Homo sapiens: one gene and its partner. The protein of the gene in region 1 interacts with the protein of each later gene in a biochemical or structural test. Each region holds a gene or a part of one and is shown in the gene's direction. Other genes may lie near its edges.

What was found.
Region 2: the proteins of E2F2 (region 1) and RB1 form a complex in vitro, tested with the Homo sapiens proteins (2 studies listed by BioGRID and IntAct, with this or other methods).

What each region holds. Positions count from the first base shown.
Region 1 is NC_000001.11:23,514,208-23,518,028, reverse strand, and holds part of E2F2 (transcription factor E2F2), read left to right. Parts: intron 1-1,501; coding exon 1,502-1,694; intron 1,695-3,821. UniProt on the Homo sapiens protein: Transcription activator that binds DNA cooperatively with DP proteins through the E2 recognition site, 5'-TTTC[CG]CGC-3' found in the promoter region of a number of genes whose products are involved in cell cycle regulation or in DNA replication.
Region 2 is NC_000013.11:48,366,169-48,369,989, forward strand, and holds part of RB1 (retinoblastoma-associated protein), read left to right. Parts: intron 1-1,325; coding exon 1,326-1,435; intron 1,436-2,358; coding exon 2,359-2,436; intron 2,437-3,821. UniProt on the Homo sapiens protein: Tumor suppressor that is a key regulator of the G1/S transition of the cell cycle. The hypophosphorylated form binds transcription regulators of the E2F family, preventing transcription of E2F-responsive genes.

The sequences.
Region 1 (3,821 bases):
TAGCACATTTTTTGTTTTTTTTGTAGAGACGAGGTTTTGCCACGTTGTCCAGGCTGGTCTTGAACTTCGGCATAGAAGTGATTTGCCCGCCTTGGCCTCCCAAAGTGCTGGGATTATAGGCGTGAACCACCGCACCTAGCCGTGCAAGACCCTCATACATGCTCTTCCCCTCGAGCTGAAATGTTCTTCCCTCTCTGCCTGATTTACCGCTATTCATCCTACAGGTCTCAACTCAAATGTCACTTCCTCAAGGAAGCCTTCTCTGATTACCTCCAGACTTCATAAACACCTGTGCTTTTCCGCTGCCTTTAATTTAATCTCCATTTGCTGAGGTATATTTGGCATGATTACACGATTGCATTCTGCTTCATCTATTAGGGTGTAAGCTTCACAAGAGAATGTTCTACTCACCTTGTATCCCTTGCCCAGAGCCTGGCATATTATAAGGACTCAAGAAATAATTTATTTAAAGGAAGAACTGGGGCTGCAGAGACAATTAAGGTCCTGCCCCCACCCTTGGAGGAGTTCACGACTTAGTGGGAAAAAGACGCTGTCATTTATAGACTGAAGATGTGCTTTGCAAGCATAGAGAAAGGGTAGTTAGAGGAGGTATCCCAGGTGGGGACAGTTAAACTAGGTCTTAAAGAATGAATAGGGTTTTTGCTAGGTGCAGTTCTGTGTGAGTACAGGCATGGAGACCTGGACATGTGCCTGGATGGCATGCATGTCATCAGTTGTGGCTTAAGTTGCGGTTATGTGGTAGGGAAGGGACAGGGTGGGAAGACCAAATACTAGGACTCTTGGTTACAGGTAACAGAAAGCCAAGTCCAACTGGCTTCAGCGGGAGGTATGGGTAGGGGTGGTGGGAACCAAATGACAAGTCCTGGGGGAGATTCAGAGATTGCTGGCAAGGTTGGATGTAGATGCTCAAACTATGACTTCAGGTCTGTCTCACGCTTTTCATCTCTCTGCTTTTCTCTGTGCTGACTCCATTCCCAGGTGGGCTCTCTCCTTGTGGTGGTAGAGGTAGCTTTTATGATACCAGCTCAGCAACCCCAGTGGGAAGGGGGCTTCCATTTCCCACAAGTCCAGCAAAAGTCCTGGGCCTAGTGCTGGTTGGATCCACCTGAGCCATGGGCCATCCTGAACCAATCATGTCACACTAACTTTCCTGGCTGCGTCACAAGCTCACCCACTGGCATTGGGGAAGGGTGCTGCCCCCCCCCCCCCGCCCCAAAACTAGATGACCTGAGAGTGGGGGGAAGAGTGATTTCCCACAGGAAAATCAAGGTGTTCCCCCTAAAAGAAGTGGGCTTCAGGGCCAGACAGCAGAAACAGCGGAAGTCCACCTTAGTTAGGCCAGATGGAGTTGGTCTCAGTGCCAGCCCAGGGTTTGAGCTTGCACCCATGGATGGCAGCAGCCACGTGCGTCTGTCCATACACACTAAGTGTAAGTGTCCAGCTGCCCAGAGCAATGACCTGGCTTCTCTTCCTCCTCCAGGACAACCTGCAGATATATCTCAAGAGCACCCAAGGGCCCATCGAAGTCTACCTGTGCCCAGAGGAGGTGCAGGAGCCGGACAGTCCTTCCGAGGAGCCTCTCCCCTCTACCTCCACCCTCTGCCCCAGCCCTGACTCTGCCCAGCCCAGCAGCAGCACCGACCCTAGCATCATGGAGCCCACAGCATCCTCAGGTAGGTCCCTTGTCCAGAGGGACAGGAGGTGGGGGGAGAGACCGGCCTTAGTTTTCTCTTCTATATCAATGTTTGTTGAAAACCTCCTGTTTTATCCAGCAGCTGGGGATGTAGTCATCCTACCCCACACATGTGCATTGTACTTAATGCTTTATAAAGCCTCACTAGGAAGGCTGGTGCTGCTCCAGGGCAGAGGAAGGCCTGGATTTGAATCCCAGCCCATCCACTTACCAGCTATGTGACCTTAGACAAGTTACTTAACCTCTCTTGGCCTCAATTTTTCTCATCTGTGAGTTGGGCGCAGTAATTAATACTGTCTAACTCATAGGTTGTTGTGAGATTATATAGCTCACGCCTATAATCCCAGCAGTTTGGGAGACTGAGGCAGGAGAATCATTTGAGACCAGGAGTTCAAGAGCAGCCCGGGCAACATAGGGATACCCTGTCTCTATAAAAAAATTTACAAATTAGCCGAGTGTGGTGGCACACGCCTGTAGTCCAGCTACTCGGGAAGCTGAGGTGGGAGGAACACTTGAGCCATGGAGGTTGAGGCTACAGTGAGCTCTGATCATGCCACTGCACTCCAGCGTGGGCAACAGAGGGAGACCCTGTCTCAAAAATAAAAATAAGAATAAAATTTTAAAAAATAGGCCAGGCGCTGTGGTCCCCACCTATAATCCCAGCACTCTGGGAAGCTGAGGTGGGAGGATCACTTGAGCCCAGGAGTTCAAGACCAGCCTGGGCAACATAATGAGACTCCATCTCTAATAAAAATAAAATAATAAAATTTGCCCATTAAAAAAAAAATAAGACATAGAGGTGATGTGTCTTACCTAAGGTCTCCCAGCTGGGAGGCAACAGAGCTGTGTCTTGAACCTTGGTCTACATACTCCCAGCCCAGTGCTCTCTCCACAAGGCATAGATCAAATCGAAGAAGGGGCTTCTGGCTGGGAGGTGGACGGTATGGTTAAGAGCTGGCTACCCCTGATGGAAGGTAGTACAGGTAAGTTGCCAGGGAGCAAAGTTCCTGAGAGCTTCCCAAGGAGGGTGGGAGTCCAGAAGGAGTACAAATGGAAGCCTGTAAAGGCCCCTCTCCAGAACAGTTTTTGCCTTTTCCTGGATCACACATCCGGCTAGACTGGCAGGATTCTTCAAGGCTATGTAGGCCAGTGTTCCACTTTTTGTCTTCTTAGCAGCAGAATTCTCTTAAGTAGAACCCTAGCGTTTAGACCAAGGTAGAGGTAGAGCTGGGCTGATGGAAGAGGCTTGCTGGAAGGGCTCTGCAGTACACTGGTTGTGTCCATTTCTCTAACTCAGAGGTTAATAAACTATTGCCTGCAGGTCAAATCTGACCTGCTTTTAATGACCCATGAGCTAAGAATGGTTTTACATTTTTAAAGAGTTGTGGGAGAAAGAAAAAGAAGGCAACTATGTGACAGAGACCACAAGTGTCCCACAAAGCCTAAAATACTCTCCAGCTTTTTTTTTTTTTTTTTTTTTTGAGACAGTCTCGCTCCGTCACCAGGCTGGAGTGCAATGGTATGATCTTGGCTCACAGCAACCTCTGCCTCCTGGGTTCAATCAATTCTCCTGCCTCAGCCTCCCAAGTAGCTGGGATTACAGGTGCCCGCCATCACACCCAGCTAATTTTTTTTTTTTTTGTATTTTTAGTAGAGACAGGGTTTCCCCATGTTGGCCAGCCTGGTCTTGAACCCTTGACCTCAGGTGATCCACCTGCCTTGGCTTCCCAAAGTGCTGGGATTACAGGCTCCAGCTCTTTATAGAAGTTTGCTGTCCCCAACTAACTCAACCCTTCTTTTAACACATGAATGAACACAGGCCCAGAGAGGGCAAGTGGCTTCCCTAAGGTCACACAGCAAGTTGATGGCAGAGCTGGGACCAGAGCCCAGCCTCCCAACTCTTCTCTAATGATCTCTCCTGTGTCTGTCAGGCCTCATCAGGGACCAGAGCTTCTCCCTGTGCTAGCCATCTGTCCCTTGGGACACCTCCCCAGTGCCTATCTCCCATCCCAGACCTCTGCCCCACCCTCTGGTCCATCCTCCTCCTGCTGTGCCTCCTCACTCAAGTGTCAGCATGCGCATAGCCCTCCGAAGCTGGAACCACCTT
Region 2 (3,821 bases), on another chromosome or scaffold:
GTCTTGTTACCACTTTTGGTACCAAAAACTAGGCTGTTCATAACTTTAAAATCTGTTGTAGCAATCTTTTTTTCTCCTTTAAAAGGATTATAGTTTTAATATAAATCTTAAGAGTAATTTTACTTTTTCTCCAATATTTCACATAATATAGCCAATCAATAGATGACTGGTAATTAGTGCCTCAACTAAGGTAGGACAGGAACAATGATTAAACATAAGCATGGATTACTGTTCTATCTAATACATTTATGAAGATTAATGAAAAGTTTGCATTTAATTGGATTTCTTCCTATCACTCCTTTTAAAATGCAATTTTACTTCTCTGAGGTTGGAATCACTTTGGCGTTAAAAGTCACAGTAGAAGGCATGCCAATAGTTTTCTCTTGGGCATTGGTTTTTAAAGTATAATTAAAAAATTATGGATCAGAACTGATGAAAGATTTACAAATTCTAGCAATTGAAAAAGTATCTAAGATTGGGAATAAATTGTGCAAGTGTGTTAATTGAACTGATAAATTGAGCTAATTGTCTTGCCCAAGATACTTAACTGAAGGGTACTGGAGTGAACCAAAGGGTTTAGAAAACATTGGTAGAATATGTAATCAAGAGGATTTGCAACAATGTTTGAAAAAATATTTTATATTGATAAGCATAAAAGATTAAAAGCAGGCTGGGCGCGGTGGCTCACGCCTGTAATTCTAGTACTTTGGGAGGCCGAGGCAGGTGGATCACCTGAGGTCAGGAGTTCAAGACCAGCTTGGCCAACATGGCGAAACCCCGTCTCTACTAAAAATACAAAAATTAGCCGGGCATGGTAGCAGGTACCTATAATCCCAGCTACTCGGGAGGCTGAGGCAGGAAAGTTGCTTGAACCCCGGGGGCAGAGGTGGCAGTGAGCCGAGATTGTGCCACTGCACTCCAGCCTGGGCGAAAGAGCGAAACTCCATCTCAAAAAAAAAAAAAAAAAAAAGATTAAAAGTAAAGCATATATGGGATGTTTGGAAAATCTTGGCAGTTAAACAGTTATTATAATACCTATTTTTATCTTAGGTACTGTTTTGTAGCATTGGCTATCTTTGTCTACATAAAATTCTAATAAATATTTTCTATGCACGAAATAGACCTAAAATCAAAGTTGAACAAATGTTGCAATTTTCTGTACCTCACTTTTAGATAGACCTTATTTATATTGCATGCGAACTCAGTGTATATTACAAAATTAAATGTATATTATACAAAAATTCTTTAATGAAATCTGTGCCTCTGTGTGCTGAGAGATGTAATGACATGTAAAGGATAATTGTCAGTGACTTTTTTCTTTCAAGGTTGAAAATCTTTCTAAACGATACGAAGAAATTTATCTTAAAAATAAAGATCTAGATGCAAGATTATTTTTGGATCATGATAAAACTCTTCAGACTGATTCTATAGACAGGTATTGCACATGGTATATTTGATTGATTTGCTTTAGATATAGGTTGATACTGATATAGGTAGATTATATAGTCTTTAGCTTAGTGACCTTTAGATATCATTTATAACAAATTACTTTCAAATGTCTTTATACAAAGAAAAGTTTAACAGTATTTTAAGCATATAACTTATCTACAAATATAGATTTAATGTGAATTGTGTGTCCTATAACAGTTACCTTTTTGCAGTTAACTGAATATAATTTTTTAAAATGTGCACCAAAAGATAATGGCTAAAGTAATTAGTTTCTTCAAATAGTGGTCTCTACCTTATTTCTATCCTTTCATATACTATTGCCTGCCTGGTTTATTTAAAAAAGTTTATACAAAAGTGTAGTCTCTGTTATTATCATGTAGAAACCTAAAATTGGAATGGTTGAGAGTGATTGTTAAAATTTTTGACTGATCATAAGTAAAGTTAATTTTGTGTCTTTAGCATGAACTCTTTTAATATGAAACTGAAAATATGCGTAATTTAGAAGTTAAACACAGTAAAATGTTTTAAATTTTATTTAAGTGGAAATAAAGTTTTTAGAAGGAATAATGCATTGAAAAACTTGAGTTTTAATGCTTTTTAATACTGAACAACTTGGTTATCAATACCACCAGGGAGAAAGCATCTGACTTTCACTTTTAAAAAAAGACTTAATGATTGGTATACCTCTTTGTCATAAACATAATGGAAAGAGACCCACAATTAAAAAGAGTAGTGAAAAATATTTTATTTAAGCAGCAGCTGGGTCATCTATTTTCTATCCTATCTATTATTGAGTTATCATTTTATATGATTTTATGAGACAACAGAAGCATTATACTGCTTTTTTGATGCATAAAGCACAAATTGTAAATTTTCAGTATGTGAATGACTTCACTTATTGTTATTTAGTTTTGAAACACAGAGAACACCACGAAAAAGTAACCTTGATGAAGAGGTGAATGTAATTCCTCCACACACTCCAGTTAGGTATGAATTTTCCTACTTTTAATTATATTATAATTTTGTTATTCATGGCTTTATAGTGTTTCAGATTTGTTCACGTTTCTTTATGTATTCATACATACATGTAAGAAATATATATTGAAGGCCAGGTGTGGTGGATCACACCTGTAATCCCAGCACTTTGGGAGGCCAAGGCGGGCAGATCACCTGAGGTTAGGAGTTTGAGACCGGCCTGGCCAACATGGTGAAACCCCGTCTCTACTAGAAATACAAAAATTAGCTGGGGGTGGTGGTGTGTGCCTGTAATCCCAGCTGCTCGGGAGGCTGAGGCAGGAGAATTGCTTGAACCCGGGAGGCGGAGGTTGCAGAGAGCTGAGATCGTGCCATTGCACTTCAGCCTGGGTGACAAGAGCGAAACTCCGTCTCAAAAAAAAAATGTGTATATATAATCTTTGTGTGCTGGGCATTTTACTGGTTGCTGAAGATATGGTTATTGGACCTAGTTTTGTCTGTTCTTAAAGAACATAACCTAAAATAGGAATGTGTTCCATTTCAGTAAATAAAAAAGAAAAAATTAAAGTATCACTATTTGATCTGCATGCAACCTTAAAGGATTAGAACTATTTTTTATGTCTTTTTCCTCACTCATTTCCCACATCAAAATCTGTTATCAAGGCTTGTTGAATAATCTACCTCCAAAATATTTCCTGAGTGCATCTACTTTTCTCCATTTCTGCTCTCACAACTCTTGTCCAAGACATTGTTCTCTTTCTCTTGGATTTTTTGCAGTAGCCTACTACCTGATCTTGCTCCTTCTGGTCTCATCATTGTTCCTGTCTCCTCACCATCAAAGATATTCTCCATAGAGCCCCCAGAATTTCTCCTAGAAATGTAAATCAGTTACATTCACCTTGCTGTTAAACCCACTGACTGCTTCCCATTGCAATTGGTATACAGTGCAAATTCCTTAACAATGCCTAAAAGATCTTATATGGTCTGGTTTCTGTTGCCTCTCCAACCTCATCTTGTTTTCTTTCTCACTCTGTGTTAGCCACACTTTGGCCTTCTCTGTTTCTTGGGCTTTCCAAGTTTTTTGAAAACCCTCGTACTTGATATTCCCTCTTCTTGAAATTTCCTCCTTTTCTTTCCATGGATTACCAACTGCTACTCTTCATTCAGCACAAATATTGCTTTTGAAAAGATATTTCTCTCTGAAGTATTTTATTATTTCTCATATCATCCTGTTCCATTCCTTTATAGCATGTATCCCAATTTATATTGATAGATTCATTTGTGTTTGCTTGCTTTTACTAATACCCAAAATAGCCTTAAAATTCCATATCACAGAGACCATAACCTTTTTGTTCACTGTCTAATAATTAGGGCCTGTTATAAAACTTGGTACATAG